Linked DNA regions of Homo sapiens. The protein of the gene in region 5 interacts with the protein of the main gene of each other region in a pairwise test. Each region holds a gene or a part of one and is shown on either strand. Other genes may lie near its edges. The genes, in order: ACAP3, KIFC2, LAP3, NXPH3, TAB1, NR2C2 and PHACTR3.

Evidence for each region.
Region 1: the proteins of TAB1 (region 5) and ACAP3 interact in a two-hybrid assay, tested with the Homo sapiens proteins (one large-scale study listed by BioGRID and IntAct).
Region 2: the proteins of TAB1 (region 5) and KIFC2 interact in a two-hybrid assay, tested with the Homo sapiens proteins (one large-scale study listed by BioGRID and IntAct).
Region 3: the proteins of TAB1 (region 5) and LAP3 interact in a two-hybrid assay, tested with the Homo sapiens proteins (one large-scale study listed by BioGRID and IntAct).
Region 4: the proteins of TAB1 (region 5) and NXPH3 interact in a two-hybrid assay, tested with the Homo sapiens proteins (one large-scale study listed by BioGRID and IntAct).
Region 6: the proteins of TAB1 (region 5) and NR2C2 interact in a two-hybrid assay, tested with the Homo sapiens proteins (one study listed by BioGRID).
Region 7: the proteins of TAB1 (region 5) and PHACTR3 interact in a two-hybrid assay, tested with the Homo sapiens proteins (one large-scale study listed by BioGRID and IntAct).

The regions. Positions count from the first base shown.
Region 1 is NC_000001.11:1,291,839-1,295,614, forward strand, and holds the end of ACAP3 (arf-GAP with coiled-coil, ANK repeat and PH domain-containing protein 3), read right to left. Parts: intron 3,717-3,776; coding exon 3,609-3,716; intron 2,979-3,608; coding exon 2,880-2,978; intron 2,791-2,879; coding exon 2,564-2,790; intron 2,362-2,563; coding exon 2,252-2,361; intron 2,096-2,251; coding exon 1,985-2,095; intron 1,871-1,984; coding exon 1,726-1,870; 3' UTR 553-1,725; downstream 1-552. UniProt on the Homo sapiens protein: GTPase-activating protein for the ADP ribosylation factor family.
Region 2 is NC_000008.11:144,468,920-144,472,677, reverse strand, and holds part of KIFC2 (kinesin-like protein KIFC2), read right to left. Parts: intron 3,408-3,758; coding exon 3,299-3,407; intron 3,189-3,298; coding exon 3,031-3,188; intron 2,214-3,030; coding exon of another isoform or gene 2,088-2,213; exon of another isoform or gene 1,649-2,087; intron 737-1,648; coding exon 632-736; intron 541-631; coding exon 419-540; intron 318-418; coding exon 194-317; intron 102-193; coding exon 1-101. UniProt on the Homo sapiens protein: May play a role in microtubule-dependent retrograde axonal transport. May function as the motor for the transport of multivesicular body (MVB)-like organelles in dendrites.
Region 3 is NC_000004.12:17,579,712-17,584,286, reverse strand, and holds part of LAP3 (cytosol aminopeptidase), read right to left. Parts: intron 4,464-4,575; coding exon 4,348-4,463; intron 2,528-4,347; coding exon 2,473-2,527; intron 2,000-2,472; coding exon 1,894-1,999; intron 805-1,893; coding exon 645-804; intron 1-644. UniProt on the Homo sapiens protein: Cytosolic metallopeptidase that catalyzes the removal of unsubstituted N-terminal hydrophobic amino acids from various peptides.
Region 4 is NC_000017.11:49,574,534-49,578,670, reverse strand, and holds the start of NXPH3 (neurexophilin-3 precursor), read right to left. Parts: upstream 2,801-4,137; 5' UTR 2,452-2,800; coding exon 2,398-2,451; intron 76-2,397; coding exon 1-75. UniProt on the Homo sapiens protein: May be signaling molecules that resemble neuropeptides. Ligand for alpha-neurexins.
Region 5 is NC_000022.11:39,419,872-39,424,446, reverse strand, and holds part of TAB1 (TGF-beta-activated kinase 1 and MAP3K7-binding protein 1), read right to left. Parts: intron 2,621-4,575; coding exon 2,476-2,620; intron 1-2,475. UniProt on the Homo sapiens protein: Key adapter protein that plays an essential role in JNK and NF-kappa-B activation and proinflammatory cytokines production in response to stimulation with TLRs and cytokines.
Region 6 is NC_000003.12:14,949,987-14,954,561, reverse strand, and holds part of NR2C2 (nuclear receptor subfamily 2 group C member 2), read right to left. Parts: intron 1-4,575. UniProt on the Homo sapiens protein: Orphan nuclear receptor that can act as a repressor or activator of transcription.
Region 7 is NC_000020.11:59,771,628-59,776,202, forward strand, and holds part of PHACTR3 (phosphatase and actin regulator 3), read left to right. Parts: intron 1-1,651; coding exon 1,652-1,826; intron 1,827-2,615; coding exon 2,616-2,863; intron 2,864-4,575.

The DNA.
Region 1 (3,776 bases), on a different chromosome or scaffold from region 5:
AGTGCGGCTGGACGTGCCGACACGCGGTGATGTACCCATGCTCCGTGTGTCTGTGTCTGCATGTCCACACGTCTGATGCACCTGTGTACGTGTGTCAAGCCTAGCCACCTCAGCTGCAGGGAGGCAGAAGGCAAGGCAGGCCCCACGGACACACTTGGGCTGCTCTGAAATAAAGCTGTTGACTCCACCTGGCGGCCAGTGTGTGCCTGTGTGCCCCTCCAGCCGCCCCGCGCCCGGTGAGCTGAAACCCTGACTGCACCTGGCGGGACGAGCCCCAGCCTAGCCTCGCCGGTTCGCGTCCACCCCTCTTCCCACCAGGAAACTCAGTCTAGGACAGAGAAGGGTAGAAGGGCGAGACAATGGGGACCAGGGGCATCAGGACCCAGATTTTGTCAAACGAGCCCCAGGTCCCCATCAGGCCCCTTGCGGCCTGTTGGAGTCTGACTTGAGTGAGTGCTACCCGGCTCAGGAATGCCCCTCGGGGAGGGCAAGGGACACAGACACTCCCCGGAGACAGAGCAGAGCAAGGCACGGGAGCCCAGGAGCAGGCAGTGGGCGCAAGTGCTTTATTCAAAGCGAGGGGTGGGGGGTGAGACCCGCCAGCAGGGGCCTGGGGCAAGAGGCGGGGCCAAGCTCACACAGGGAGAGGGGCAAGAATCAATTCTGTTCTTCAGGGTCACAGGCAGCAGGCAAGAGAGTTGGGGGGCCGGGTCCAGCGCCCACTGTGCCCTCAGGGAGCCTCCCCAGGGCAGCATTGCATAGTGACCAGCCGACTGGCCTTAGCCTGACCTGCGCTGAGTGGGGGAGGCCCTGCCTCCCTGCCGGGCACCTTTGGGGAAGGGGTGCGTGAAGGCATTGGCAGGCCCTGCAATATGAGCCGAAAGACCCCTGGACCCAAGGGGGAGGCTGGTCAGGGGCAGGGCTGGGGCTCAGGCGTCCTCAAGAGTCCACAGAGAAAAGACGCAAGACAAAGTCAGACGAGGCCTATAGCAAACCCACTCGGTCCGCTACAAAGAACATGAGATGAGGGCTGCAAAGTGGCAAAGTGGCTTTATGCGCAGGCTCTGGGCCGAGTACCAGGAGAAGGTGCCTCCGGAGGAGGCCGGGATGCGGCTGGGGCTGTCTGGCACGGGGACCTTCGTGGCCAGCCACGTGGCCTTGGGACGCCCGCGTCCAGCCAGGGCTGAGGACCCAGGCCAGAGCCCCTCCCGCCCAGCACCCGCGACGCCAGCCTGGATGCTGGGGTCACTAAGTGAGGTACTCGTTGGTTCCCTGGATGGGCCACCCTTTCTGCCCTGGGAGGAGGCTCTGGGGTGTGCAGGAGGGAGCCAGCTAACAGGTCAGTGTTCTGGGCAGAAGTGGGGCACGAAGTAACACAGGCCCTGAGGACACAGGGACACAGGTGACACGGGCCTTAAAAGTGGCTTGTGACATGAGCAACCCAGGCCCCTGAAAAGGGGTGACCTGAAGACAGAGGTTCCCCAGGTGGGGTGAGGGACACCCGACGATGCAGCACCCCCCCAGGGAAACGTGAGGCTTCAAGAGACTCAGTGTGGGGCCCTCGCTCTCCTCCTGGGCGAGCAGGGCCGCGGCGCCCCAGCACTGGGGCTGCCAGGTATCGACCCGCGGGTCACACGCAGGGCCGCGGCCGGGTGGGCGCCAGGGACTTCGGGGCATGCGGGGCGTCGGGCCGGGCGGGGTGGCAGCTGCCCGGCCTGCCCGGCCCTAGCTCTCTTCCAGGTGGAGGCTGATGAACTCCTGGATACACCTGCGGAACTGGAGCTCCGTGGGGCTGCCCGCCAGGGCGCCCGGGGGACCAGGGGCAGCCTCGGCCTCGCGCATTTCCTCCGCCATGCGCGCCAGACGGAGCCTACGGGGAGGCACAGCGTGAGACGCCCCTGCCCTGGAGGCCCCGCCCCTGCCCTGGAGGCCCCGCCCCTGCCCTGGAGGCCCCGCCCAGCCCCGAGGGCCCGGCCGCGCTCACAGTGTCACGATGTCAGCGTTGGCCGCCTGCACTGCGATGGCCAACGGGTCCCGCTGCTCTTGGTCCAGGGCGTGCTGGTCCGCGCCCCGCTTCAGGAACAGGCAAACCTGGCTGAGGGGCGAGGTCGGAGGGGCGTGTCGGGGCGGGGCGGGGCGGGGCGAGTGTGGTCGCGGGGGCGTGGCCGGATAGGGCATGGCGGACAGGGCGTAGCCGGGCCGGGGTAGGCGTGGTCGGGGCACAGGGCGGGGCGTGGGTTGCGCGTCTCACCCGGTGCGGCCCAGCAGCGTGGCGTGGTGCAGGGGCGCCCGGCCCCGGCTGTCTCTTTGGTTCACGTCCGCTCCGTTTTGCAGCAGGAACTCACAGACGATCAAGGAGCCCTGGGGAGCCGGGGCAACTCAGACGGAGCCACGGCACCGGCCCCTCTCCGCGCCTCTGCACCCTGACCCCGGCCTTGGGCGCCCCCAGCCGGGACCGAACGTGGTCCCCACCGCGGACAGGCGACCCTTGTGTGGGCGCCACAGAAGATGCAAACGCGACTGTGCACCTGTGTCCTGCGCGCAGCCCCCGTGGCTCGCTCACCCCTAGCACGGCCTGCACCAGCGGCGTCTTGCCCTCATCCTCCGCGTCCGCCCAGTTGACCTCGGCCCCGTGGGCCAGCGCCGCCGCCAGCGCAGGAAGGTCGCGGGCACGCGCTGCGCGGTGCGCCAAGAGCCCCGGGTGCAGCTCGCGCACGTCCGCCAGGCCCCAGGCCTCGGCCTCAGTGTCCCCGTCTGCCTCACCGCTGGACTCCTCCGACTCTGCACCCTCTGTGGGGAGGGGGCGGTCAGGGAAAGCAACCCCCGGGGCTGCCCAGGGGCTGGGCAGGGGCCTCGGGCGAGGGCAAGACGCCACCCACCCTCCTCAGTGACGCTGTCCACCACAGAGCCCGAGCCGAAAGCCAGGACGTCCGAGCTGCCATCCGAGCTGCCCCCAAGGCCACTGTCGCTACTCAGACCTGCAGGTCCGCAGGGAAGGGGGTCCTGAGGGTGGGAGGCCCAGACTCCGTCCAGAGCCCTGGGGCAAGGCTGGAACTCCACCCACCCTCCAGGGGCCACCCCTAGGGACAGGACCAGCTCCCACCCAGGGCCGGGGGGAGCCAGCTGCAGGCTAGGAGCAAAGGAGAGAAAACCAAATAACAGCTCAAAGGTGCCAGGGGTAGCCCCCTAAAGCCCAGGCCTTTTGGGAAGCCCTTCCCTCCCGCTCGCCGCCTTACCCGGCACCCCCCGCAGTGGGCCCCCCAGCCCCGTCTGTGGCTGGCCCAGGCTGAAATGTCTCCACCCAACCAACGGGCAGCATGGCTCCAGAAGGGCCCTAGGCTGAGGGCCGGCTGGCAGCGCCCTCTGCTTCCCCAGCACCCCGGGCCACCCGCTGTGTGCACACACCCAGGTGCACACAGCCCACACACACATTTGCACAGCTCACCCCTGACAGTCAGGGCCTTGGCCTCCAGCTGTGTGGCCAGGAGGCCCCCCGCCCCTTCAGATGCTGCTCCATTCCCTGGCAAGGGCCATCCACACTCAGGCACCCTTCAGGCCAGCCTCCTTGGCCCTGCCCTGCCACCTGGCTGGGCCCACCCCACACTTACTGCGAGGGCCAGCCCCTGCGGCCCCTGCGTCGAAGTAGGAGAAGAGCGAGTCCAGCTCGTCGGGACAGAAGAGGGAGTCTCGGCGGAACTTACGATCCAGGGTGCCCACTGCAGGGGCAGTGCGTGTTCAGAGTGTGGAACAGGCCCGGGGTGGGGCAGGGAACCCCA
Region 2 (3,758 bases), on a different chromosome or scaffold from region 5:
GCCGCGCGCAGCGTCAGCGTGACCAGGGCATGCGAGCGGGAGCTGCGCTGGTTCATGGCGGTGGCGGCGGTGGCCCGGTTGCTCCTCCCCAGTTTCAGCATCTGGAAGGCGGGGCGAAGGGCTGGTCAGGTGCAGGGTCCCCGCCCCCAAGTGGAAGCACGGGGCGGGGTCTCGGAGAGCGGTGCAGCCCTACCTGGTGCAATGTCTCCAGGTTGGGCACGTCCCAGTGGGTGAGGCCAGCCACCTGGATCCCGCCCTGGCCTTCTGGGCCCTGCCTCACGGCCAGGCGCTCGGGAGGCCCTGGAGCAAGGAGGTCCCTGGTGAGAAAGGGGAAGGTCTTGGTTCCAGAATTCTCTGGAAATCCGGAAGGGCCCTGGGCCAGGGGTGGGGAGAAGGCCTCCCTGGTGGAGTAGCCCACCTGACAGCCTCATTGTAGATCTCCACCATGCTGAGTGTCACCCGGTGCTGCCGGCCGGCCCCCATCTCCCGGAACAGCGACTGCAGCGCCCTAGGAACTATGCCGGGGTCCTCAGGAGGGCCCTGAGGATGGGGTGGGGTGCACACCGGGCTCACATCCAAGTCATGCAGGGCCCCTGGGGCCTCTCCCACTGGGGCGTGAGCTCTGTCCCACCTCCATGCTGTAGGTCTTCCCGGTGCCTGTCTGGCCATAGGTGAAGATGCAGACGCTGTAGCCTCGGAGGCAGGACAGCACCGCAGGTTCCAGCTCTCTGAAGACCTGCGGGAGGCGGGAGAATGTGTTTTGAGTCCTCCCCACGTTGCCTGTTTATGCCCTATTTGGTGGGGTGGGGAGTGCCACGAAGGCAGGTGTGAGCAGAGCCTAGTCTCCTGGGAGGATGGCTCTAAGGGACCATGGGGGAGGGTGTGTCCTACAGAGACCCTCTGTCTCCCTAGAGAAGGTGGTGCTTGCAAGAATTTGCCAGGCAAAGAAGGGAAAAGACACAATGAGAAGAGGAACAGCCTATGCAGAGGCTCTGGAGTCCTGAAGACCACGTAGGAGACCTGGGGACAGCAGTTAAGAGCGCAGGTGTGGTGTCCTTAATGTGGAAGCCAACGTGAAAAAAAGAAAAATAAATCCCAGCATTTTGAGAGGCCAAGGAGGGTGGATTGGTTGAGCTCCGGAGTTTGAGACCAGCCTAGGCAATACGGTGAAATCCCGTCTGTACAAAAACTACAAAAAAATTAGCCAGGCATGGTGTTGCACATCTGTGGTCCCAGCTACTCGGGAGGCTGAGGTGGAAGGATCTCTTGAGCCCAGGAAGCAGAGGTTGTAGTGACCTGAGATTGCACCACTGCACTCCAGCCTGATGACAAAGTGTGACTGTCCAAAAAAAAAAAAATACATATACATATATATGTAGTAAAAAATTTTAAAAATGTTTAAAAGAGCCCAGATGGGCTGGGCGAGGTGGCTCACGCCTGTAAACCCAGCACTTTGGGAGGCCAAGGCAGGCAGATCACAAGGTCAGGAGTTCAAGACCAGCCTGGCAAACGCGGTGAAACCCCTGTCTCTACTAAAAATACAAAAATTAGCCGAGCATGGTGGCACGCACCTGTAATCCCAGCTACTTCGGAGGCTGAAGCAGGAGAATTGCTTGAACCCAGGAGGCGGAGGTTGCAGTGAGCCGAGATCACACCACTGCACTACAGCCTGGGCAACAGAGTGGGATTCCATCTCAAAAATAAAGAAAAAAAAAAGAGCCCAGATGTTGGGGCGTGACTGCACGGTTCAAACCTGGGTATGATTGGAGCTTACTCATTGGCCTTCCTGTGCCTCACTTTCCCCTGAGAGATAAGGGCTGCAGTGGCACCTGCTGTGAACACTTGTGGCAGTGCACCTAGAGGGCCGGCCACACCAGTACCTGGCTCACAAGGCGTGACCCCAGGAAGGGCCTGCAGGTACGGGGGATGGTGGCCAGCCAGGCCTGCTGGAGCCCAGGCACAGACAGGTGCTGAGAGAGACACAAGGTTAGGACATTCACCCCATTGGCACTGGACACCAACAGTCTTTTGAGCAACAACATGGCTGGCTTTTATGCCCAGAAGGTCGCTGCTAACAGGGTGGGCTGTCAGCTCTGTTTGAAGACAGCCACAAGGCTAGAATCTAGAATTCTGTGTTCTGTGTGGTCACTGAGGTTCCATGATTGGATGGAGGTGGCACTGAGGATGACATTCAGGAGCACATCATGGCACCACTGCAGAAACAGGAACACAGATGAGGGGCTTGTCCACAGATGCCTTTGGTTCAGACACATTGACTGAGAGGACCCTGTCCAGGACGGCTGTCCAGAGGACGGTGCACAAGGCATGCCCTGCGCAGTGCTGCAGTGTGGGGTGGGGCTAAGGCCAGAGGGATGTGTGGGATGAAGGAAGAAGTGGTTGGAAAAGAGGCAATCAGGGTGACCCTGGCCACCTGCTGGGCAGTCGTCCCCCTGTCCCTGTGAGGCTGGCAGGCAGCCTGGTTGGGAGTCGCTGCCATTCTGCCCCTTACCTAGTCTCCCCTGGCTCTGAGCTGCCATCTCCTTAGCTATGGGAGCTGTAGCAGCAAAGGGCATGTGCAGATGAAAACGTGTGTGAAAGTGGGGTGGGCTGGGGCTGAAGCCCCTGCTTTTCCACAGGTGTCTGGCAGGAAAAGGGTGGGGAAGGAGAGTGGGATCCAGGCAAGGCAGAGAGAGCACACTAAGACTAGAAGGTTGCCTCCTCACCCACGGCCCCCACCACCCACCGCCTGCCTTGGGGCCATAAAGCAATGAGGGGCCCTCATAGCTGGGCAAACCCTGGACCCCAGCAAAGGGGAGTGGGCAGGCAGTGAAGCCTGGGAGGAGGAGGCACCAAGCTGGGCTGCCTGCCCTGCTTCCCAGCCCCCTCGGTTCCCTTTCCTTCCTGGCTAGAGCCCAGCCACCCTCTCTCCTCCAGGTGGACACCCAGACTGGGAAGGGGAAACTGGAGCCTCTCCTGCTCTTCAGGGAACTCTGAAAAAGGGTCAGGATGGCTGCAAAGGCAGGCTGTCACCTCCTCCTGGCTGGCGTCTGGAGGGAAGACCCAGTCTAGGCGGAATCGACGATGGCGCCCCCGGTAGCAGGTGGTGACGGTGCCCCCTGGGCCAGGCTCCACACTCACAAGGCTAGAAGATGTCCCTGGCCTCAGCCGACACAGCACACGGATATTTCCTGCAGTGGGGATCAGGTCAGCATAATGCCTCGCAGACCCTAAAGCACAGAGAAGCTGCACTTCTTCCAGCCGCCCTCCCTGCCCCGCTAGGCTCCCAAGCCTGTCATACCCTTGAGTTCTGGCAGCCGCCCTGGGCATCCGGCTGGGGGCCCTTGCTGCCCCTCAGGGAGCTGAGTGCCAGGCCCTCCAGATGACAGTGCCCCCAAGGCCCAGGACACCTGAGGGAACAGGGATGTACAGAAGGCAAGGGGTCAGCCAAGGAGCTGCGGAGGTGGGGGGTGGGAGGGTCCTGAGAGCAGCAGGGAGCCCCCACAGGCCCGCTCAGCTGTGCTAAGCCACAACTTTCAGTGGCTCTGGGCCCCTGGGGACATCATTGAGTAACCCCAGGATAAAGCCCAGGAATGACAGGCAGGAACACCACATCATCTGTCTCCTCCGTGCTTCTGGGCAATGCTTTAAGAGTTTACTGTCAACCAAGTATGCATAGAATTAAAATAAGGCCCAGAAGTGGAATCCCACCCTGGGTCACACAGAAGCTGTTTGGGTTCCAGAGCCCCACTTATTAGTAC
Region 3 (4,575 bases), on a different chromosome or scaffold from region 5:
AATGCAGAAAATGAAGCACAGAGATTTCAGCCACGTAACCAGCAAGGTCCCCCAACGAGTAAGTGGTGAAGCCAGGACTTAAGCCCATGCTGACTGGCTGCAGAGCCCGCACTCTCCCCCACTCCCCACAGCTGCCAACCCTTGGCCAGTGCCAGGGCCCCCACTGTGCTTGGCACCATCTGCTGAAGGTCTCATCTTATTTATTCCTGATGGCAGGGACCCCACTAGCCCACAAGGGCAAGGACCAAGCATCCAGAGGATCTCTTCATCTGTGTGGTGCTTGCATTTAGCACAAGGCCAGCAGGTGCCAGGTAAATGAATGAACATTATCTGGGTTGAAACCTGTGGGATATGTCTGTCATGTCATTCCTCCCTCTCAGGTAAGAGCTACCTGGTTATGGCTTCCTTGTAATCAGAGCAGGGAGGGGTCAGGGAGTCATGGGGGAATCAGACATATGCCGAGAGCCAGGAGCAGAGCTTGGGCTTAATTTTGACCACATTATTAAAATGGCTGAGGCAATGGGGAGGTCACAGCCAAGCCACGCAGCTGTGGGTGGCGCTGAAAAGCAGGCAGCTCATATCCCAAAAGCCAGGCTGTCAGAACGCCAGGGAGCACCACCCTCCTCCTAATTTGCTTCCATCACCTTCCATAGAGCTTTGCCGACACAGCCATCTTCTTTTTTTGCTTTAGGTCATCGTATTCATAGAGACCAAGCACCGCTCCCTCCGCAGCAGCCTGAGCGTCTCCACAGGGATCCACCTCCACAGACGAGAGCTCCAGGTCTTGAATCTGCCTGCACCCCGCTTGAAAAGACAGAGGAATCAGAAAACTGGAGTCAGTCCAAGACAACTCAAAGAGCAGACAGCAGAGGCATGATGTGATGTGCTGAGAAAACAGCCCTGGGGTTCAAATCCCAGCCCTGATACCCGAATGTTCTGAGCCTCATTTCCTCTTCTGTAAAATGAAGACGTGAGTGCATTTTACAGCAAGTACCTCACTCCCAGGTGGTGGTGAGGACAGGCTGATGGAGAGAATGAATAGCTCCTCCCAGAGCCGTACAGGCTCTCAGGAAGTGGCAATTATTCCTAGGATTATTTCTGAAACACTATGATTTCCTGATGAAGCTTCCCAATTGCCAAGAGCTTCTCTGATTAAAAATGACAGGGAAATGATGACGCTGAAATTATATCCAAAGAACTGAGCAAAGTCCATTATTAACACAGCATTTTATTAAGATCAGGTCAGCAAAAACTCTCAAAAGTTATTAAATAACCACTTCAATGATATTTGAAGTAAAGTTAATGAGCATTTATAATATACACAGGCCTAAATAGTAATCAAGCCAATTATCACTGTTTCAGAAATGTTTTACAAAGCATCTTTAATCATGGCTCTTGACGGTATTAGGCCCGTCCTGCTGCTTAATGCTAAGTGACTCAATGGCCCCTGCCTGGGACATACTGGGACAGGCACACACCTTTGGCTAGTGATAAACAAGCACGCCACGCTTTGCTTCCTTAGTCTCTTTATTTGTAAAATCTGATGACTCTGTGTTATTTAAAAGTCGGGAGGCATCAGGGTGGCATTACAAAAAATCTATACACTACAGGTTCTGGGAAAACACAGCTCTAATATGACAAGAGCGAACAAATGGTAGTAAAACACCCAAATGAGATATAGATATATTAAAAATAAAATTCCATTAGCTAACCTTCTGTATTTATCATAAGGCCAACCATATTCAGCAAGAGGAACTGAATTTTTGTTAAGATGAATTATTTCTGTGTGAACGTGGTAAGGGGTGGCAACTGGTAAAAGGACAAAAAGGGGAAAGAGAGGTCATCAAAAAGAGTGGATCCTCAGGATTCTTTAAACTTAAAAAGTGAAATAACCTGCAACAGCAGCTCTGATGTTTTCTTTGCCTTCATGCCAGTTTTCCTGTTCGTCGATTCCAGCTGCCTTTTTGCCGAGGCCAACTAGCACCACGCTGGGGAAGTCCTGTCCCACAGATACACCAAATCAACCACTTTATTTCTTTCAAGCATTCATTTCCAGCAAGGAATTCTACATGTGGAGACTCACTGAGCTCCCACACAATTACTTTAACTGCAGCAACAGGGCTAAACGCACGGTGAAATTTGGTTGTGGCTTTTTTTTCTTAAAACCTTTGTGTCCTGGCAAAATTGTATAACTTATAGGTTTGAGAGGCAGAGTAAGTGAGGATACTCTTGCAAATAATTCTGTGTAAGCCAGAGCCACAACCGGATAAAGAAAGCCTTCAGATTGAGGAATATAAGATAGGCAGTAGTTTTTGACAGCAAATCGCCTCTTAATCTTAAATGTTCTGCTTAATAGTGGAATAAAATCATACAATCCAACACATAATGTTTAGTATGACTAGACAGCCCCAATACTTGGTGTACAGTAGATGCTCATTGAGGGTTTACCAAATGATCACGTTCTTCTCATACCTGATGCAGACCATAAAAGGTTCGAGTCTTCCCTGCCTTCAGAGGTGGTCCAGATCTAAAACAAGAGGAAATAGTCGTTTTAAAACAAGTATTTTGCTCGGTTCACTTGGGAAGGCACACTTACATACTCGGCATTATCACACTATTCTGCTAACTGCTTCCATGGTCTTTTTCACTTATGTTTTTATCCAAATACAGAATGCTCTCAAGCCAGATTTCTTTCTTTTTTTTTTTTTTAAATAGAGACAGGGTCTCACTCTGTTGCCTAGGCTGGTCTCAAACTCCTATGCTCAAGCAATCCTCCCACCTCAGCCTCCCGAGGTGCTAGGATTACAGGTGTAATACAGATTACACTGCTGATCTACCGTGCCCAGCCCAGATTTCTTAGGTGTAGCCTTTCTAATTCTAGCTCAAAAACTATTTAACAAACTTTCAGATTAGATCTAACACAAACATATTTAAAAACAATGGAAAGCAATGCTACAGCTGCACAAGGCATCTGAGCACGGATTGACGCTGAACCGAATGAATCTCAAACCTTTTTCAATAAAAGCCACAAGACACCAAAAACACTGCAGTAATCTAAGTGGTGGTTGGCTTGGAGGTTGTATATCTATGTGGTTTCTCCACAGACTGGATACCCGAACCGGATACTGACTATCCTGGGCAATTTCCAAACAAAACAGATCCATGACTATAAGAGGCCCGTAGCACAGATGCTCTGGAATGCAGCTGACAGCCATCCATTAGCAAGGCAGGCGTTCTGTACTCACAGGTTAGCTTTTGGATTAATGAATTAATCAATGCACTTGAGAATGCTCTGTGTACTACAAGAACTGATAAAAAATTGAGAGGAGATACAAATTCTCTTAACCGATTATTAGTTACTATAATTATTAGACTGCATCTATTAGGTTCCAATAGGCTATCTATAATCCGAATAATACATAGTTGCAGTGGTTTACATGGATACTTCCATGTCTGCCAAATACAGCATGCAGTTACAATGTTTCCCTACCATCAGGATCTCCAGCCCCATGGAGACTTTTTGTATTTTAACTATATCCTCAGGTGATTCACAGATATTTTAAATTTTGAGAAGCCCTTGAAACTTCAGGCAGGCAATAAAAGAGCAAAACCCTTAGGCTGCTATTAACTATCCTAGGGATCCTGCTCTCACAAGAAAAGGGGAGTTAAAAGAAGTAGAGAGGCTGGTGGGAAGGCAGCTGGGAGGAAGAGGGTGGGGAAAGTGAATTTGAGCCAGGAGGGTGGGCTGAGGAAATCTGGTACTTTCCAGATTATTCTGGATCAGTCTTTCACAATAGATTTCTGATTGGGCTGGAAATGGCCTGACTTCCCAGAACTGCAGACCCATCCATACTGAAACAGAAAGTACCAAAGTGCATTCCAAAGACACAGGCTTTCACTTCTGCTTCTGGCCAGAGCACTTCCCGGCATTGTCTCTTCTGACAAAAAGGCATAGAAAAATATTCTTGGCCTGGCACAGTGGCTCACACCTGTAATCCCAGCACTTTGGGAGGCCAAGGCAGGCAGATCACTTGAGGCCAGGGATTCAACACCAGCCTGGCCAACAACAGTGAAACCCAACTCTACTGAAAAAAAAAAAAAATACATATATATATATATATGAAAGCCGGGAGTGGTGAGGCATGCCTGTGATCCCAGATACTTGGGTGTCTGAGGCACGAGAACCACCTGAACCCAGGAGGCAGAGGTTGAAGTGAGTCAAGATCGTGCCACTGCACTCCAGCCTGGGCAACAGAGCAAGACTCTGTTTCAAAAAAGAAAAGAAAGAAAAAATACTGTTTCGATTTGGGGGCACTTTAAGAACTAGAGCCCACAAGCAACACTTACATGTTCAAAGTCTCTCTCAGCTTTCCAGCTAACAATTTATCAAAATTCTCTCCTGCACTTGTGAACTGTGGCACATCATCTTCTTTTTCTTTGGAATAGATTCCTAAAACAAGGCCCTGGGAATAAGCAAAAAACGTAAATATAATAGAATTAGAGTAGATCCCTTAGAGAGGCTCAGGAGTCCCCAAATTCCAGAAGGAACAAATAATTCCACCCAAACCGTGTCCT
Region 4 (4,137 bases), on a different chromosome or scaffold from region 5:
CCGGGGCTGGCCCTCGTGGTCATCACGCTCAGGGTCCTCTGAGCCGGGAGGACCATCATCCTGGCCACAGATGACCTATGGAGGGAGTTGTGAGTACAGTGAGAGCCCTGTCCCTGGAGGTCCACCACCCCCGCTACCAGCAGTACCCCTGTCCCTGCCACTTCACTCTGACCTGGGTGAGGAGCTCCTGCGTCTTGCCCACTGAAGCTGGGGGGCAAGTGTACACTCTAGCTTGTGTACATCTCAGGTTCTGACAGTTGGGTCACCCCCCCCCCCATTGTCCTTTCCTCACTGTCTTGGCCACTATTCAAATTCAAAGTCTCAAAGACCGACAATAATTCTCTCCAGTGAACTGTGGCACCAGGGACAACGGCTCCTACCCCTAGGGAGTCCCCAGTCTGATGGGGGAAGCCCAGCTTCTGATCTTGGGGAGCCCCCATCTAATTGCAGAAGCATCATCCCTGTGCTGACAGAGCCCCCAATTTGATAGGAAGTAGAATCCCTGCCTCTGTGAAATCCCCAGGCTGATGGGGGAGGCATAATCTCTGCTCTGAAACAGCCCCGAGTCAGACAGGGAAGCACCATTCTTATCCTGGGAGAGCCCCTGGTTTGACAGGAGAGGCCAGCCCCTGCCTTTTGGGACTTCCTAGTCTGTTGGGTAAGACACCGTCCCTACCCTAGGATAATTTCTACCCTTAGATGCAAAGAGAACCACCAGACAATGGAATAAGAAAGCAGAACACAGTGTAATTCTCAAGCACGAATATAGTTTAGGTTTGGCAAGAGAACTAGGGGAGACCCGGAGTGAATGCCACACCCAGGATGGCCATGGGAATGGAAAGCCAAACACCTCTCCAGGGTACACTGATGATGACATGCCACGATGTTACTTGCATTCTGAGGTAGGAGTTCTTATTCCCATTTCACAGATAAGGACACTGGGGCTCAGAGATTACAACACTACAAGGCTGAGTTCACATAGGGTCAGCCCTTCCTTTACACTCCACACTCCTGGCCTCACAGATCAGATGTGTCTTTTTGAAAGGGTTTTTATCCAGGCGCCATCCGCCTCTGGAATCTGCAGGGGCTCATCCTCCCTCTGCTGGATCAGCTGTGGTGACAACCCACACCTGGGAGATTCCTGGAGGTGCCACAGGGAGAGTGGGACAGCAGTGGGGGGCATCAGGGGGTTGACAGGGCTTCCTGAGGCGCAGCCTGGCTGTGGGTTTGCTCAGCTTTTGAAAGCAACCACTTGCCCTAGGTGTCTTTACTACCAGCACCGGGGGGCATCTGGATTTGGTGGTGACACTGGGGTGGGGACAGTAGGGTTCCAAGGGGCTGTGGGGTCCTCATGCCTGTGTTCTGGCCTGGGTGTTGCCGGCAGCTGTGTGCTGTGGCCGAGTCTGTCTCTGCCCCACAGTTCAGGCTGGCCCTGACTGCCAGGCCCCAGAGGTGGGGTAGAGGGACGGCTAGGACGGGAGGCTCGGGGTCTGGGTCTAGGGCTGCAGACCTGTAGGTACTTGCTCCTGAGGGTCACGGCTGAGTGGCTGGAGGGTAAAGGTGGGGCCGTGAGAAGGGAAGGGCTCTTCCCACAGTGGCATGGGGCGGTGGCAAGGGGCTTGTTGATTAAAGGGGCAGGTCCAGATGTGGGGCTGAGGCTTCACGACAGTATTGCGGGGAGGGTCAGCGGGCGCTCGGTCGGAGGGGAGTTAAGCCACGGGCTGGGTTCGGGGAGGGGATCCCCGGCGCCCTGGGTCGCCGAGAAGCCGCGGAGCCGGCGCACGGGGAGCGGGCTCTGGGCGCTCCGCTCAGCTGCCGCGAGTGCCTGGGGCGGGAGCCGCCTGCCCAAGTCCTGTGGGGCTCCGGCTGCGCGCAGCCGGGAGAGCAGAGGAAAACAACAGGCGGGGAGGGAGGGAGCGGGAGGGAAGGCGGGAGGGGAGGGACGCGGGGGCCGCCCCCCGCCTGGACCGGCTCTGTGCTCTGGGGGACCCAGAACCCGAGGCTCTCTGAGTCCCAGAGGTCAGGGGAAAAGCCTGCAGGTCACCAGCTCCACGACCCGCGCCCCACTCGCCCCCGGCTTCAGCGGTCCTGAGGCTCTGGGAAGGGGTAGGGTAACCCTGGCGACCCGGCTCCAGGCCTTTTTCCGAGCGCTGGTCGCACCTCCAGCCACCCGCTGCGGAGTGGGTGGGCCAGCCAAGCACCCTCTCCCCGCCCCTATTAACCCTATCTGTCCAGTCTCCGGCCTCGGACCCGCCCTCTCCCCCAGCCTCCAGTCTTCCCCGCCATCCCCGGGATGTCGGGGGAAGGGAGAAAGTTTCAGGGCTCGCAAGCTTCCCGCGCTCTCCCCCGATCCTCCGGGCCCCCGCCCCTCTGCGCAGCTCCCCTCGGACCACTCACCAGATAGAGGCTACCCTGCACCAGGAACACGAAGCAGCAGCGAGTCAGTTGCATCTTCCTCCTCCGCTCTCGTCCCCTCGCTCTCCCCTTCTCTTTTCGGGGTCCCAGGCCTCCTTCCCCTTCCTGCTCCTTCAGGCGCGCCGTCCCATGCTCCAGTCCCCGGCGGCCCGCGGCCCTCCCCTCAGCGGGTCGCCCAGGGCCGACCCCGCCCCCTTCGGTCCAGCTGTGCAGCCGCCGCCCCCCTCCCCTGGTCCAGCTGCGCGCGGCACGGCCCCCGCTCGAGGTCCCAGATGTGCGCCCCGAGCGCCTCGAAGGGCCCCAGCTGCGCCGTGGCTCTGCTGCTCCAGATCTGCGCTCGGCGCCCCCCTCGGCTCCAGCGGCGCCGCTCTCGCCCAGATGTGCTGGGGACCTGCGCGCGCGCCCGTCCTTGGTGCTAATTCCCCAAACCAGGCTGCTCCACCCGCCCCGTCGCGGCGCGCCCCCTGGCGGACGCCCCCAGCCGCGCGGAGCCCCGGCCGCCCGCTCCCCGCGCTGCGCTGCGCCCCGCCAGACTAGAGCGCTCCTGGCGCCCAGGCGGCTCCCGCTTCCTCGTCCCTCCCACCGGCGGCGGCGGCGGCGGCGGCAGGTACAGTGAGCCCAGCCGGTACCTCCGGAGTTAACTCCTCCCCTGCCGGCCCGCAGCCCGGGGACCTAGGACGCCGGCTCTCCAGCCAGGAGAGGACGGCACGCGGGGGCGGAGTAGCTCTTGGAGAGGAAGGGAGAGGGTGGTGGCCAGGGGATACGGACCCTACCGTTTCCACCTCTTTTGCAGGGCGCCCGTTCCCCGGGAGCGGGCAGCAAGAATCGGCTGCCCTGCCCCCAACTCAGGAGTCCTGGAATTAAGAAAGATCCTTTTTTTAAAAAACCCATTCTAAGAGCCAAAACCTGTGCTGAGGGAAGTCCTTCTGGGTGTCTAGCCTGCACTCCTTTTGTTATGATGTCTGCTCCTTCCCTCTTCTACTTTACTTGGAGGGGCTGAGATAATCCCTGGACCTTCTCGGTCCAGCCACTGTGACAGGAAGTATTTGGCTGGGCCCCTGGGCTGAAAAGGCTGTTAGGGGCCAGGCTAGATTCTGGGGCCGGGGGCAGGTCCTGAGAAGCTGGAGAGTGAGGGGAGCAAGGCCTTCCTGGAGCCTGTCCCTTCATTATTCACTACTTACCCTCTCTATGCCACAGGGGTCACCAGGCCGAGAGTGGCTCCTGTCCCAGTGGGGTCTCTGCAAACCTCCAGGGCAAGGAGGAAGAACACGACCCTGATCTGAGATTCCCAAAGATGGGGGCCCATCCTCCATCACCCCCACTCCATATCTTCAGGTCTCCCTCCTGGAATTCCAGGGTCCCTTTAGTCTGTAGAAAAATGAAAGGTCAAGTCCTGGCATCCCTTGGAGGCTATGAAGGTGAGGAGGCACCCCATCATTTGAAGTGGTCCCAGCTTGGGCTGGGCCCAAGGAGCACGGTGGGTGGGCACTCTGCTCTGTGGCCCTCCAAGGCCCAGCTTGGTCCCGTGGCTGCAACCCCGGCACGCACCCAGCCTCCTCCCCCACCATCTGCCAGGCGGGTGCGCGGGGAATGCAGATGAATCTTAATATCAGCCTGGGCCAAGTGCGATGAGGGAGACAGATTCTGCAAAACCCAGACAGCATCACAGAGCCCCCTGCATTTCCAGGCACCCTGGGCCATACCAAGATGCAACAGCTCTTT
Region 5 (4,575 bases):
AAAAAAAAGAAATCAGAACACAGGGAACAGGGGATAGTTAGGCACTTGAGACTTTTTCGAAGTAGATCTGCATTCAATCCAGCAGTCTGGGCATCTACCTAAAGGAAAATAAGTCATTATATGAAAAAGATACTTGCACACGTATGTTTATAGCAGCACAATTCACAATTGCAAAGATGTGGAACCAGCCTAAGTGGCCATTGACTAATGAGCAGATAAAGAAAATGTATCTATAAACTATGGAATACTACTCAGCCAGTAAAAGGAAAGAATGAATGTCTTTTGCAGCAACTTGGATGGAGATGAAGGCCATTATTCTAAGTAACACAGGAGTGGAAAACCACAAACTATGTTCTCACTCGTAAGTGGGAGCTAAATGATGGGAATGCACAGGCATACAGAGTGATATAATGGAACTTTAGAGACTCAAGGCGGGAGGATGGCAGTGGTGCTAGGGATAAAACACTATACATTAGTTACAATGTACACTATAAAACACTATACATTAGTTACAACGTACACTATAAAACACTATACATTAGTTACAATGTACACTATAAAACACTATACATTAGTTACAATGTACACTATAAAACACTATACATTAGTTACAATGTACACTATAAAACACTATACATTAGTTACAATGTACACTATAAAACACTATACATTACTTACAATGTACACTACTGGAATAACTGGTTTACTAAGATCTCAGAATTCACCACTACATAATTCATCCCTATAACAAAAAAATACTGGTACCTCAAAAGCTACTGAAATAAAAATTAATTTTCAAATTTTAAAGAAGACTTTTTCCTCATGATATTGATTGATTGATTGAGACAGAGTCTTGCTCTGTTGCTCAGGCTGGAGTGCAGTGGTGCGATCTTGGCTCACTGCAACCTCCACCTCCCGGGTTCAAGCGATTCTCCTGCCTCAGCCTCCTGAGTAGCTGGGATTACAGGTGCCTGCCACCACACCCGGCTAATTTTTGTATTTTTAGTAGAGACGGGGCTTCACCATGTTGGCCAGGCTGGTCTCGAACTCCTGACCTCAAGTGATCCGCCTGCCTCGGCTTCCCAAAGTCCTGGGATTACAAGCATGAGCCACTGTGCCCGGCCAATACATGATTTTTAATTAAAAAGGACAAAGCAGGCTGGGCACAGTGGCTCATGCCTACAATCCCAGCATCTTGGGAGGCCAAGGTAGGAGGATCACTTGAGACCAGGAGTTTGAGATTAACCTGGGCGATACAGTGAGACCCTGTCTCTACCAAAAAAACAAAACAAAGAAAACAACCAAAATTAGCCAGGTGTGGTGGCACACACCTATAGTTCCAGCTACTCAGGAGGCTAAGGCTGGAGGATCGGTTGAACCCAGAAGGTTGAGGGTGCAGTGACCCGTGATCACGCCACTGCACTCCAGTCTGGGTGACACAGCAAGTCTTAAAAAAAAAAAAAAAAAAGTCAAAGCAGAAAAGGTTATCTTCCTACAAGAATCACAGAAAGGAGGAGGAACACAAACTGAACTTATCTTAGCCAGTCAGCAATCCAAGGAGGTCAGGGAAAGACAGTTTTCCTTTGAGACCATCCCTAACGTGACTGTCTTGAAGTCACACTTTGGTGACTCCAAGGTATAAGAAAAATAAGCAACTCTTGGCTGAGGGCCTGTGTCTACCACGCCTAACCTCACTGCGATCTCACAAAGGCAGATGTTACCATCCTCACTGTAGAAATGAGAAGTGAACTGCCGGGCGCGGTGGCTCACGCCTGTAATCCCAGCACTTTGGGAGGCTGAGGTGGGTGGATCACAAGGTCAGGAGTTGGAGACCAGCCTGGTGAAACCCTGTCTCTACTAAAAATACAAAAATTAGCTGGGCGTGGTGGCAGACACCTGTAATCCCAGCTACTTGGGAGGCTGAGGCAGAGAACTGCTTGAACCCGGGAGGCGGAGATTGCAGTGAGCCGAGATCATGCCACTGTACTCTAGCCTGCGTGACAGAGGGAGACGCTGTCTCAAAAAAAAAAAAAAAAAAAAAAAAAAGAAATGAGAAGCAAACTATAAATTGTCTGCCACTCAGGGAGGGCAGTAAAGCCGTCAGGCCCTTGGCAGGAAGTGATGGGTGTGGGAAGGACTCTGCACATCTCTTTCTGTGCTCTCCTCCTGGCCCTGGCCCCTTCCTGGCCGTCTCAGAGTAATGCCGTGCCCATAGCAATTCACATCCATCTCCCCCTCTTCCCTTCAGACCTTGCTCAGGCCCTGAGGACTGGCACTGCTTCAAGCCTAAAATGAGTCAAGTTTTTGGGTGGGATGGGTGTTTTCAGAGCTCTGGGATTCTCCTTCCCCCAGCTTTGAACCCAGAGATGTCTGGTGACGGCCTCCGAGAATCACAGTGCTAGAAGGCAGGGTGAGCACATCACCATGCAGGCCAGCCACGCTCTCCGGCCATGGGCGTGGCTGGGCCCAACTCACCTGGTTGGCCTGCCCAGGCCCATGGGCTGCCTCTAGGGCCTTGTACAACCCCTCCGACATCAGCACCAAGAAGCCCGTCACCCCATCCAGCGGCTGTGCCCCATGGATTTCTGGCTCTGCGATGATTGGTTTGGACTTGGCAGCGCTATGGGGAGAGAGTGGAAGGAAGAGCTTTGCTTGGAACAGCCCGCAGGTGGATGCTGATTCTGCTGAGGGGAGGAATCTATGCCCAGAATGTAAAATAAAACACACAACCTGACAAGAGGAAAAGAAAAGAGAGAAAGAGAAGGTCAGAAAAATAGACCCATCGTCTTACAGCAGCTGCTAAAATAAAGCTTGGAAGGCCATAAAAACTGGCAGGCAGCTGAGGTCAGGATGGCAAAGGTTGAATGCCCGATTCTGGCCTGTTCCATACGTCCTGTTCACAGGGTCCGGTGGTGGCAGGGCAGGGTGTGGGACAGCAAGAGGGAGGGATTATCCCTGGGAGCCCAAGCCTCTTGCTATTATTTGGGCTTTTCCAAAACAGATGGCTGAGACCCCAGATACTCTCCATGTGTACAGGGATCCTTTAGTGACTGGGGTCAGAGTCATTACATGCCAACACATGTGTGTGCACATGGAGGTAAGTACATGAGGAGGTGCTGGCAACACCATCCAGAAGAGCGGAGTCTAAGAACTTCCTGAGGGTCCGTCAGCCAGGGCTGGGCCCTGGGAGCGGTTATTACACAGAATGACGCCATCCTAACTGCAGGTGAGCAGAATGAAGAGATGAGCACCTTTAATGATAGCAGTGAGGGGTGTGTAAACATATCTCCAAACTCATCAAGTTGTATGCATGAAATAGGCACAGCTTTGCATATGCCAATTACACCTTAGGGTTTAAAAAAAAAGAAAAGAAGGAGGAGCAGGACACACCAGCACCTGGGAGGGGCAGGACACACCAGCACCTGGGAGGGGCAGGACACACCAGCACCTGGGAGGGGCAGGACACACCAGCACCTGGGTGTTCCGAAAAGGATGCAGGCTCCTTGGCCCCCAGGACAAACACACACACACACACACACACACACACACACACACACACACACAGAGAGAGACACCCCAGCACCTGGGTGTTCCGAAAAGGATGCAGGCTCCTTGGCCCCCAGGACAAACACACACACACACACACACACACACACACACACACACACACAGAGACACCGTGTGTGTATATGTGCATGTGGCCAGATTTTGGAACAGGATACACAAGAAACTAGCAGCCTCTGGGGAGGCAGCGAGTCCTAGAGTGTGGTGTAGGAAGACTTCCTTTCCCTGTATAGACCCCAGCACTGTCTGAAGTGTTTTAAACTATGGATGTCCTTTCCAATAAAGGAAACAGGACCCCACAAATTAGGGACAAATATTCGACACTCAGTTGCCTAGATCGCGTGAGGGCAAGGAGTTCTAACATGCACTTTCTAGGCCATGAGGCCTCTGTTGATGGGAACTCTGGCTTTGGGAACAGCCTTGGCCATGACATTAAATGCCATGATTGGCATCAGGCAAGTGGACGCGCCTATCTCCCCAACCAACACTTCACATACAGGTTACCTGACGGTTAAGGACACATATTCCAAATTCAGGCTGCCTGTGTTCAAGCCCCATGACCAGGGTGGGCTGCCTGATGTCTCCATGCCTCAGTTTCCTCTTATGAAAATGCCTCTGGGGTGATGGCAGTGACTGCCTCAGGGGGCCTGAGTAGGGAATGCATAAAAGAAGGTACATCCAGAGCTCTGCACGGGCTTGGCCGTGTGATGATGACTGCCCATTCTGCTGCCATGAGCGCTGGGGTGATGTCCAGAGGAGGTGTCCTCAGAGGGAAATACACAATTCATCTCACACCTCTGCTGCAGCCATGGGCAGCACCGACCAACAGGCCTGGTCTGTCCATCCCATGCCAACTCTGGCTTCGCCTGCCTCCCTTGTGGCACTAGTTGCTGCCCTCAGCTTTGGCCCAGCTCAACTCCACCCCTTGTTTCTACAGTACCCAACTCCTGGCCTGCTGGGCCTAACCTGCCCCAAACCAACCTCTCTGGGAGGAAGAAAGAGTTTGCCTGG
Region 6 (4,575 bases), on a different chromosome or scaffold from region 5:
GAATCCATTTTCACTGTCGTACAGTATTCTAATGTACGACTATGCCCAATTTATTTCTCCATTCTATAGCTGATGAACACTTAGATTGTTTCTAGTTTGGAGTCCTTATGATTAGTGCTCCTATGAACATTTTCACACATGCCTTTTGATGTACTGCTTTCTTTTCTTCGTTTGAAAATTTTACTATTTTTAAAAATTAACTGTTTTACTTTTATCTATTTTTAATTTTTATTCTCGAGAAAGTACATTGTTTATTTCTTTAGAAAAGACATATTATAAATTTATTTTATTTTTAAAAATCTGTATTATATTAAATAAGTCAACAACACAGTCTAATTATTAGCCTTTCCAGTTAAAAGCTGATATATACTTTGTGACATCTGCTTTTAGTCTTGGTAAAGCAATCAATTAAAAAATGATTTTTCAATTCCAGGGTTAGTCATCTTATCAACCTAATAAAAAGATGCATCATTACAGACACCATAGTGGTGGGACAGGGGACAAGAACGAGTGTGGTACAAATGACATATCCAAAATGTTCTAGAAATAATACCTAATCAGATTCACTATACAACAAATACACTGGGGGAAATGCAGCATGAAGCCCGCTAGTATTGTGTAACTTCTCAAGAGCCATCCAGCCTCAGTTGTTTTTTTTTTTTTTTTTGAGATGAAGTCTCGCACTGTCGCCCAGGCTGGAGTGCAGTGGCGTGATCTTGGTTCACTGCAGCCTCCACCTCCCGGGTTCAAGTGATTCTCCTGCCTCAGCCTCCCGAGTAGCTGGGATTACAGGCGCCTGCCACCACGCCCAGCTAATTTTTTGTATTGTTAGTAGAGATGGGGTTTCACTATGTTGGCCAGGCTGGTCTTGAACTCCTGACCTCATGATCCGCCTGCCTTGGCCTCCCAAAGTGCTGGGATTACAGGGGTGAGCCACCACGCCTGGCCATACGTGAATCTTTCTTTTTAAGGAACATGGGTGGGCAGTCAGGTAGGAAACTTTTTCCCCTGCATAGCTTTTATCAACATATGAACAACAAAGGTAAATAAAGCAGCTCCCTGTAAAACCAGGAAGCCTTCAGGCTTGAGTCTAGCCCTACCAGCCTCTCATTTCTCTTCACTTTTCAGCAGCAGTCACCCCATTTTCCAGGCCCCAAGACCTTTTCTCACACCTCTCACTAACGCAAACAGGGGGGAAATATTCTTTTACACTTGGGCACTTGGAATGAAATTCCTCTCCATCTACATGTTAACATTTCAGGGATTAGAATCTTTGAGGTAACTGTTAATAATTATGGAATAGAAAGTTTCACCTCCTATTAAAGGACTTCAGGCCTCTTATTACAGTGAAGGAGGTACTTTTTATTGCCCCTAAAAAATCACACTTGCCTCTGAGGCTGACTTTCATCATTACAGGCCAACTGGAGTCCAAGGGTAACACAGAAAAAACAGTTAAGTGTCTGAGCTAGCCTATTCCCTTTCTGTCCTTAACAATTCACCTCCCATCCTTCTATTCTAAGACTTCCAGGTACCAGGGGTCTGCATCTGCATTTATTGTACCTTTAACAAATGCCTACGCCAATGCCCTGATCTGGCTTTCATCCCTCTAGTCATTCCCACTCCTCATCATTGTTGAGCTGTGCTAGTTGAGCTGTTGTTCTTGGGCAGTTCTTCCTTTTGGTATAGAGCTCCTGCTGCTTTACTCTCTAGCACTCAGGACCTGAAGTGAGCAAGGGGAGTAGGACTGCTACCTCGGGTAGCAATAGTGGGATATGGGGAAAGAGTGGCAGGATGGGAGAGAATGACAGAGAATCTCAGCCTCTGGCATATTAAGTTGAAGGCAAGCAAACCTCCAACGAATAAGGAAGAACATATCTTTTACAATGTGTAACAGGAGCACAAATGTATCCATTAAGTTAAAGATGATGATCACACAGGGAAGAAAAAAGGCATCATTTAAGGCCCTCATAATTAGCAATAAAGTAAAAAGAGGTAAACGAAAATCTAGCAGGGGATCCTTACATCAAGGCTGGACTTGGGGTCTAGACCACTTCCAATTCTGAGATTCTAAGATTCCTTCACGGACTCCCCCCGTGTGGTATTTTTTAAGATGATACTTGTACAGGAGATGGTTTGGGACTAAAGGAGCGTATGGCTTATAGGTAAGAGAACTCAACAATAAAAATCCCAACGGAGGGCCCTCGATATGTGGAGACACTCAGGCAGCTAGACACAGACCAGTGGCTCAGTGCCACGGCTGAAGACAGGGCTGCTCCACAAAGACTCACCTCCCTTGTTCTCAAAGTCATTCAGACAACAAGTATCCGCTATCCCTGGCCCCAATCTCAATGCTGGCTCCCACCTCCCTGTTTGACAAATGGGGAATTATAAGCCTCAGAGAGGCTACCAACTCCAGGTTCTGAAGCCAGGCCTTTCTGCCTTCATAGCCCAAGCTCTGTCACTGCACTGCCCTTGCCATGTTACTCCTTGGAGACAGATGCTAAAAACTTCCCAGTTGCTGGGCGCAGTGGCTCACACCTGTAATCCCAGCACTTTGGGAGGCCGAGGCAGGCGGATCACGAGGTCAGGAGTTTGAGACCATCCTGGCTAACATGGTGAAACACCGTCTCTACTAAAAATCCAAAAATTAGCCAGGCGTGGTGGCGGGCACCTGTAGTCCCAGCCACTGGGGAGGCGGAGGCAGAAGAATGGCGTGAACCCAGGAGGCAGAGCTTGCAGTGAGCCGAGATCGCACCACTGCACTCCAGCCTGGGTGACAGAGCGAGACTCCCAAAAACAAAAAAAAACACACAAAAAAAACTTCCAGCCATCCTCATAAAGTGAGGAGGTTGTTACGCACAGGGATTTTCTATAAAAGAATGATCACGAAACAAAACTTAAAAGTCACTGTGAATACAACTACTGAAAGCAATAAATAACTTAACGATGTAAGACAACATATAGCTGTTTTACTAAACTAGCAGTTCTTTGGTTACCCTGAGTAATTAGCTTAAGGAATTGAACAAGTGATACCAAAAATCTTTGAGCAAGACAGAAAAAAAAACCCAAAAATAAACAGTTAAACTATTATTATTTTTAAAATACCATAACAATATCTTATTTTAAAAGTTTTACAATATAAAATAAGTTAATACAAATGTTTTATTTACCACACTTTCGAGTAGAAACTTGATGTATACTTAACAAAATTTGCTTTTAACCTTGGTAAAGCAATTAAAAGGTGATTTTCAATAATTTCATTAAATGAATCAATTTATCTTTAGAAAGATAAATATCCCGAATTAATGGCTACAGAGACTTTCAACTCCCAATTCCCTGTGAACCCACTGGAGGCTTGTTCCTTCTCTCCAATCCCCTGTGATGGTGAGACAAAAATCAGAATATTTGATTTCAAGAAAATCATGGTAGCTTAGTGCTTCGTTTCTTCAGCTAAAGTAAATAACATAAGTTATGTTTGGGCTATTTATTTCTTCACATATGAACTTATTAACTTTCATGCACTTAAACTTGTAATTCAATCATAAAAAAATGAGTGGGAAAAACTATTGAAATGGGTCATTTTATCCATATTTATGTCTCCAGAAAGTGGCATATCTGTCAGAAATCACTTGCTAAATTCAACCAAATACCGTAACAGGCTTATTATTGCTGGCAGTGCTATCTGAATTGCCAAAGAGGCTCACACAAAAGGTATCCATCAATGTACAGCAACTTAGTTATCAGTGACATCATAAATTATCAACAATTCATTCAACAAATAGTGCCAGGCACTCTTCTAAGTGCTGGATAAGTAATGGTAAACAAAATGTATTCCTGCTCTCACAGCTTACAGTGTGGTAAGGACAGACATTAATCAAATAATCACATAATAGAGTGTGTAATTATAAAGTGAGATAAAGATTATAAAGAAAAGAATAAAAAGAATCTGATTTAGACTGGCAATGGGAATTAGGACTTCCCTGAAGAAGTGATGCTTGAGCCAATATCTGAGGTAGGGTGGGGGTGGGGGGTAAGCTTACACTGTAAGCTACACTGGTCAAGGAAGTTGAAGGTAGGCCAGTGTGTCTAGAGCACAGGAAGCTAGGGGTACCACAGATAAGAAAATAATGAAAAGCCTTGGAAAGGTTTTTAAACATGGAACAGGAAGCCTCTGCCATTACGTGGGTTCTAGTGGCGCCTGAACAACATACTGCCTGTAAGAGAGTTCTGTAAATCATAAAGCACCCTATACTTTGGTTAGTACTATTTAGTTCCATTATTTTGTTTTCCAAACTTTTGTCCTGGATGCCATGTAACTAGCTGCAAGCACAGAGCCAAAACTAGAATCTCGGTGTTCGAATCTATTGTTTTTGCCCCTACACCACACTGCATAAAAATTTCATTATTTATATCACTTAATTAGTCCAATGTCTATACCAGTAGTTCATAATGACAACAATAACTCTATTTACACAGTATTTGCTACATGTCAGGCACTTTTCTAAGCTCTATTATTTACATTAACTCATCTAATCTTCAGTTCAGGAAGGAAGGCTCTATTATTGTCCAGATGAG
Region 7 (4,575 bases), on a different chromosome or scaffold from region 5:
CTCCTTCTGTCTCCTTCTCTATTCTACAATCATCTGCTCTCTTTCTGTCTGCCTGGCCTCTGTCTGTCTCCACCAGCTGACGGCAGGGCCTGGCCCGTTTCCCTGTGGCCTGGCCTTGTGTGGCCAAGCAGGTGCTTGTAGAGAAAGCGAAATAACTAAAGTCCTCCACGAGGTTTACAGTTTCCTTTTGGGTTTTGAGGAATACTTTTTATTGATGCTGTCCACATCCCAGGATTGTATTGGAAGTTTGTTTCTGGTTTTTAGGGAATGGGGTAGTTTAGATCTGGTTGTTTTGCTGGTGGGATTAAAGGGATCTGGTGTTTGCACCAGTCCTGCCAGGACGCTTTTGGAATGAGAGTTTGTGCTGAACACCTAAGAGCTTCTGGGCCTGTGCCAGCTGCTAGGCTCCTGAAAAGGAGCTGATGGTCTCATTTTACAGGCAAGTAGGCTAAGCCTTTGAGAGCTTCAGTGACTTGCCCAGAGTCTTGCATACTGGGAAATGGCAGATCAAGACCAGAGGCCAAATCTGCAGAAGACAAAGCCCATGCTCTCTGCTCTTCCGGGCACCTGACACCCTGCTGGCCCGGAGCACATGCAGGAGACTGTCATTGATGGAAGGAGGGGGTGTCCCACTCATTTAGACTTGAATGAGCAAAGCCTGTTTAGAATCATCTTCAAAGTCATTTCATGTACACAAGTGTTTATTGCCCGTGTTTTAAGTGCCAGGCCTGGGGAAACTGTAGGAAGGAAGGTGGACACAGGCCTGCCCAGGAGCAAGAAACAGACTGGGCAGCGTGATTCACTCCAAGTAAGAGGAAAAGTGTCAGGGCAGGCTCAGGTCCCAGGGGACAGGAGACGAGGGATCTGATCATGGCCTCTCTAAGGAAATGGTATTCTAGCAGAGGAGCGGGGAAGCATTTCAGGCAGAAAGAACAGCCCATGCAAAGACTCAGGTTGGACGGAGTGTGGTGCCTTCAAAGACGGGAGAGATCTTCACATGCTGGAGTGAAGAGAGTGAGGTGGAGATGCAGCTAGGGAGCCGAGTGGGGCCACCCCCAGGGGCCTTGAGACTGGGCCATGAGTTCGAATCATGTCCTAAGGAAGATGGGAGAGTGATCCAATTCACCTTCTGGGGTGATCCTCCTGGCAGAGATACAGGGAGAGGGTTGGAGCCCAGAAATTTATTCCTTACTGTTCTGGGGGCTGGAAGTGCAAGCCCAAGGTGCTGGAACAGATGCTGTGGGGAGGGCAGAGCGGACCATGGTGCTCATCCAGGCTGAAGGGTGGCTGCACAGATTCTTCCGGGTTTCCCAAGAACAAGAAGCAGCTTCAGGAAGCTGAATTCATAGCAGAGAAGCAGGAAGGAGGCTTTTCTAAGCCCAGCGCCCTGCAGGGAGGATGCTGGTGCTGGTGTCTGCAAGGCTTGGCCCCTAACAGGGTTTGCCCTACAGATGGAGCAGAACTGGACAGAGATGCACCCTGGCCTCTAGCTTTGGGAGCAGGGATCCCGGTCCAGCATCTTGGCATTAGTTGGGGCCCCTCCTGGAGGTGCAGGGGAGCGTCCTTTCCGCTCATGGTCCCCAGTCTCAGCAAAACCCTTGGTCCCAGCTCCTGAAGACCTATGTTCTTGCTGCTTCCTCCCACACCCCAGGCCAAGCCACACTCTTCCAAGCCTCCAGCATGAAGAGTGCCGACCCTTCCCTCCGGGGCCAGCTCTCCACACCCACGGGGTCTCCGCATCTCACCACGGTCCACCGGCCTCTTCCCCCAAGCCGCGTCATTGAGGAGCTGCACAGGGCGCTGGCCACGAAGCACCGCCAGGACAGGTGAGGCCCTGCCCCATGAGGGAGACCTGTGCTGCCAGAATCCCTGCCTGGCCAGCCTCAGGCTGTGCAGCTCATGCCACGCCCAGGGCCTTGGCTGGGTGTCCCGTTCTACAGTCACTTTCTGAACAAGGAAGTCACATTTTCATTTTGCACCTCGCTCTGCAGATTGCATAGCTGATCTTGGTTCCCACATTCTGGGACGGGGTGCACAGTGAATGTGCACTATGGGAACCTGGCCACAAAGTCCTGTGCGTGAGCCCCTCAGGACCCAGGGTGGGGTGGGAGCTTTGCAGGAGAGACTGACTTAGAGAAAAGTGGCCGTTCCACTTTGTCCCAGGACACTGAGGGCTTCATAGTTGTCACTGGGCAAGAGTGTAAGGCAGCCTGTGCCTGCAGCTTACTCTTATTTTGGATCACATGTGTCTCATGGACTGTGAAAGATTAGAGGTAAAATAGGTAATAGGAGACAGTATGGGTTGGAGGAATATTAGACAAACAAAATGTCCTTCTCAGTTTTTGTGAAGTCCTCGCCCTGAACATTGATTGCATGTATTTTGGCAGGTTTTATTACTTGCATGTTCTGTGCTTTTCAAAACAGCATGTTGTAAACAGCCATTTGCCTTGAACTCAAATCCTCATGCTCCTTCTGGTGTGTCCAGGATAAAAACCAAGAGGTCACATGCATTTTGGGGCTGCCTCTGTGATATTCATTATAAGCTCCAAAGTCAATCGTGCTGGGTTTCTGGGTGAAGGGGGTGACCTATAACCTGAACCATCTTTCTGGTTTAGTTTTCAAGGAAGAGAAAGTAAAGGGTCTCCAAAGAAGCGGCTGGATGTCCGTCTGTCGAGAACGTCCAGCGTGGAGCGGGGCAAGGAGAGGGAGGAGGCTTGGAGCTTTGACGGGGCATTGGAGAACAAGCGAACTGCCGCTAAGGAATCTGAGGAGAACAAGGAGAACCTGATCATAAATTCTGAACTCAAAGACGACTTGCTTTTGTATCAGGACGAGGAGGCGCTGAACGACTCCATTATTTCTGGTGAGGAAAGGATGGCCCATTAAGTGTGGGGATCTCGGCCAGAGGTCTAGTGTCACCAGGGGGTCGAGGACAGAGCTCGTGCCTGGGGGAGGAACAGGTCGAGGGGCTGCACCTGGGGAGAAACAAGAGGGGGGCTGTGTCCTCTGGAAATGAGCTTCTCCTGAAACAAGCTGGGGTGGGGGTGCACAGCCAGGCTTAGAGCAAGGAACTAGAAAATACCCCGGTGAAATTGTTTTGAGAGTTGCATATTAGTTTTCATGTGTATGTGAAAAAAAAAAACAACATAAAAGTGGTGAAGCAAGTGACTTAGAGAATGCCACCCCTGAGGATGCTGTGGCGAACAGTATATAGTTGGTGTACAGATGCTCAGTGTACAGAAGTTATAGCAAAAACAAAAACAAAAAAAAACTGTAACAAGTAAAGCAGGACGAGATGGAAGCAGGGGGAGAGGGAGGAAGAGAGATTGCTCTATTGATCTCAAATGGCCGTCTCAGAAGTGCTGTGGATGGGACAGGCAGCATACGCTTGTTTGGGAGCAGATGCTCACAGGGTCCTTGGAAGCCAGCTCCGTATTTGTCCTCATGGTGCGTTCTCCCATGAGGTAATTGCTCCATCCTACCCTTGAGGACTCCGGGGCTCGGGACGATAGAGGCCTGCAGACCACCCTGTGATGAAGGGAGAAGGAGGCTCAGGCCAGGAGGAGGAAGTGCTGAGGGGGTTTCCCTCCCAGCTGGTACTGGCTGTGCGGGGCCCTCTGATTAGTCCCAGGAAGGTCCAGGGCGGCCGTGGTGTTTGGCCTGCAAGGGAAGGATCAGGAAGCGTCCGTTGCTGTTCTTCCTGGAAGCATCTCATGGTGACTGTTGCGGGCATGGGCAAAGCTCAGGCCACGTCTCCCTGGGTGTCTGTGGGGAGCAGGAAAGGGCATCAGATGTCGGTGCTGACCCTGGCTGGTACTGAAGGCATGCGGTGGGTACTGTGATGGGTGGATAGACCGGCAGCCCAGGGCTCCATAGCCTCCCGCTTCCTGCTGCTTTGGAGCCTTTCCACCGGGTCCGAGGAAGCAATTCTGAGTATGTGGCTGCACAACATGAAAGGGGTGGGGGTGCTGTCACCTGTGCGTTTGGAGGAGGCTGACTGCCACCGCGGAACCAGTGTCTTTGTGGCAGAAACTAGGAGCTGGTCACTGGCCTGAGGGCACCAACCTCTCTGAAGAGGCTGGAGCCTGTGGTGTTCCCAAACTCGTTAGGCCCTGGAATCCTTGCCCTTAAACACCTGTGAGCCTCCAGCAGGAGGGTGCTATGAGGGTGCACTTCTGAGTAGAGCTGGTGTTGGGATGGTCAAGGGCTAGAGCACGGTCCCTCAGCCTCAGCGCTGGTGGCAAGAGGCCAGGCGATTCTCTGCTGGGGAGGGGGCTGTCCTGGACACATTAGGATATCCTGCAGCATCCCTGGCCTCTCCACACTGGATTCCCCCAGTGAAGACAATCTAAAATGTCTCCAGACTTGGCCAGATGCCCCTGAGGGGCAGAATCACCCCCAGCTGAGAATCACTGGCATAGTCTGTGCCCTTGGTTTGGGGGTGCCCTTCCATAAGTCCCTTATCCACTCCAGGACACAATGCTTTCATTGGTGAAGAGGGAGATGGGAACTGCTTCCTCTTGACATTGACAATGTCAGCAGCCAGGGCCCCTTACCGGGTGTTTCTTGTGTCCG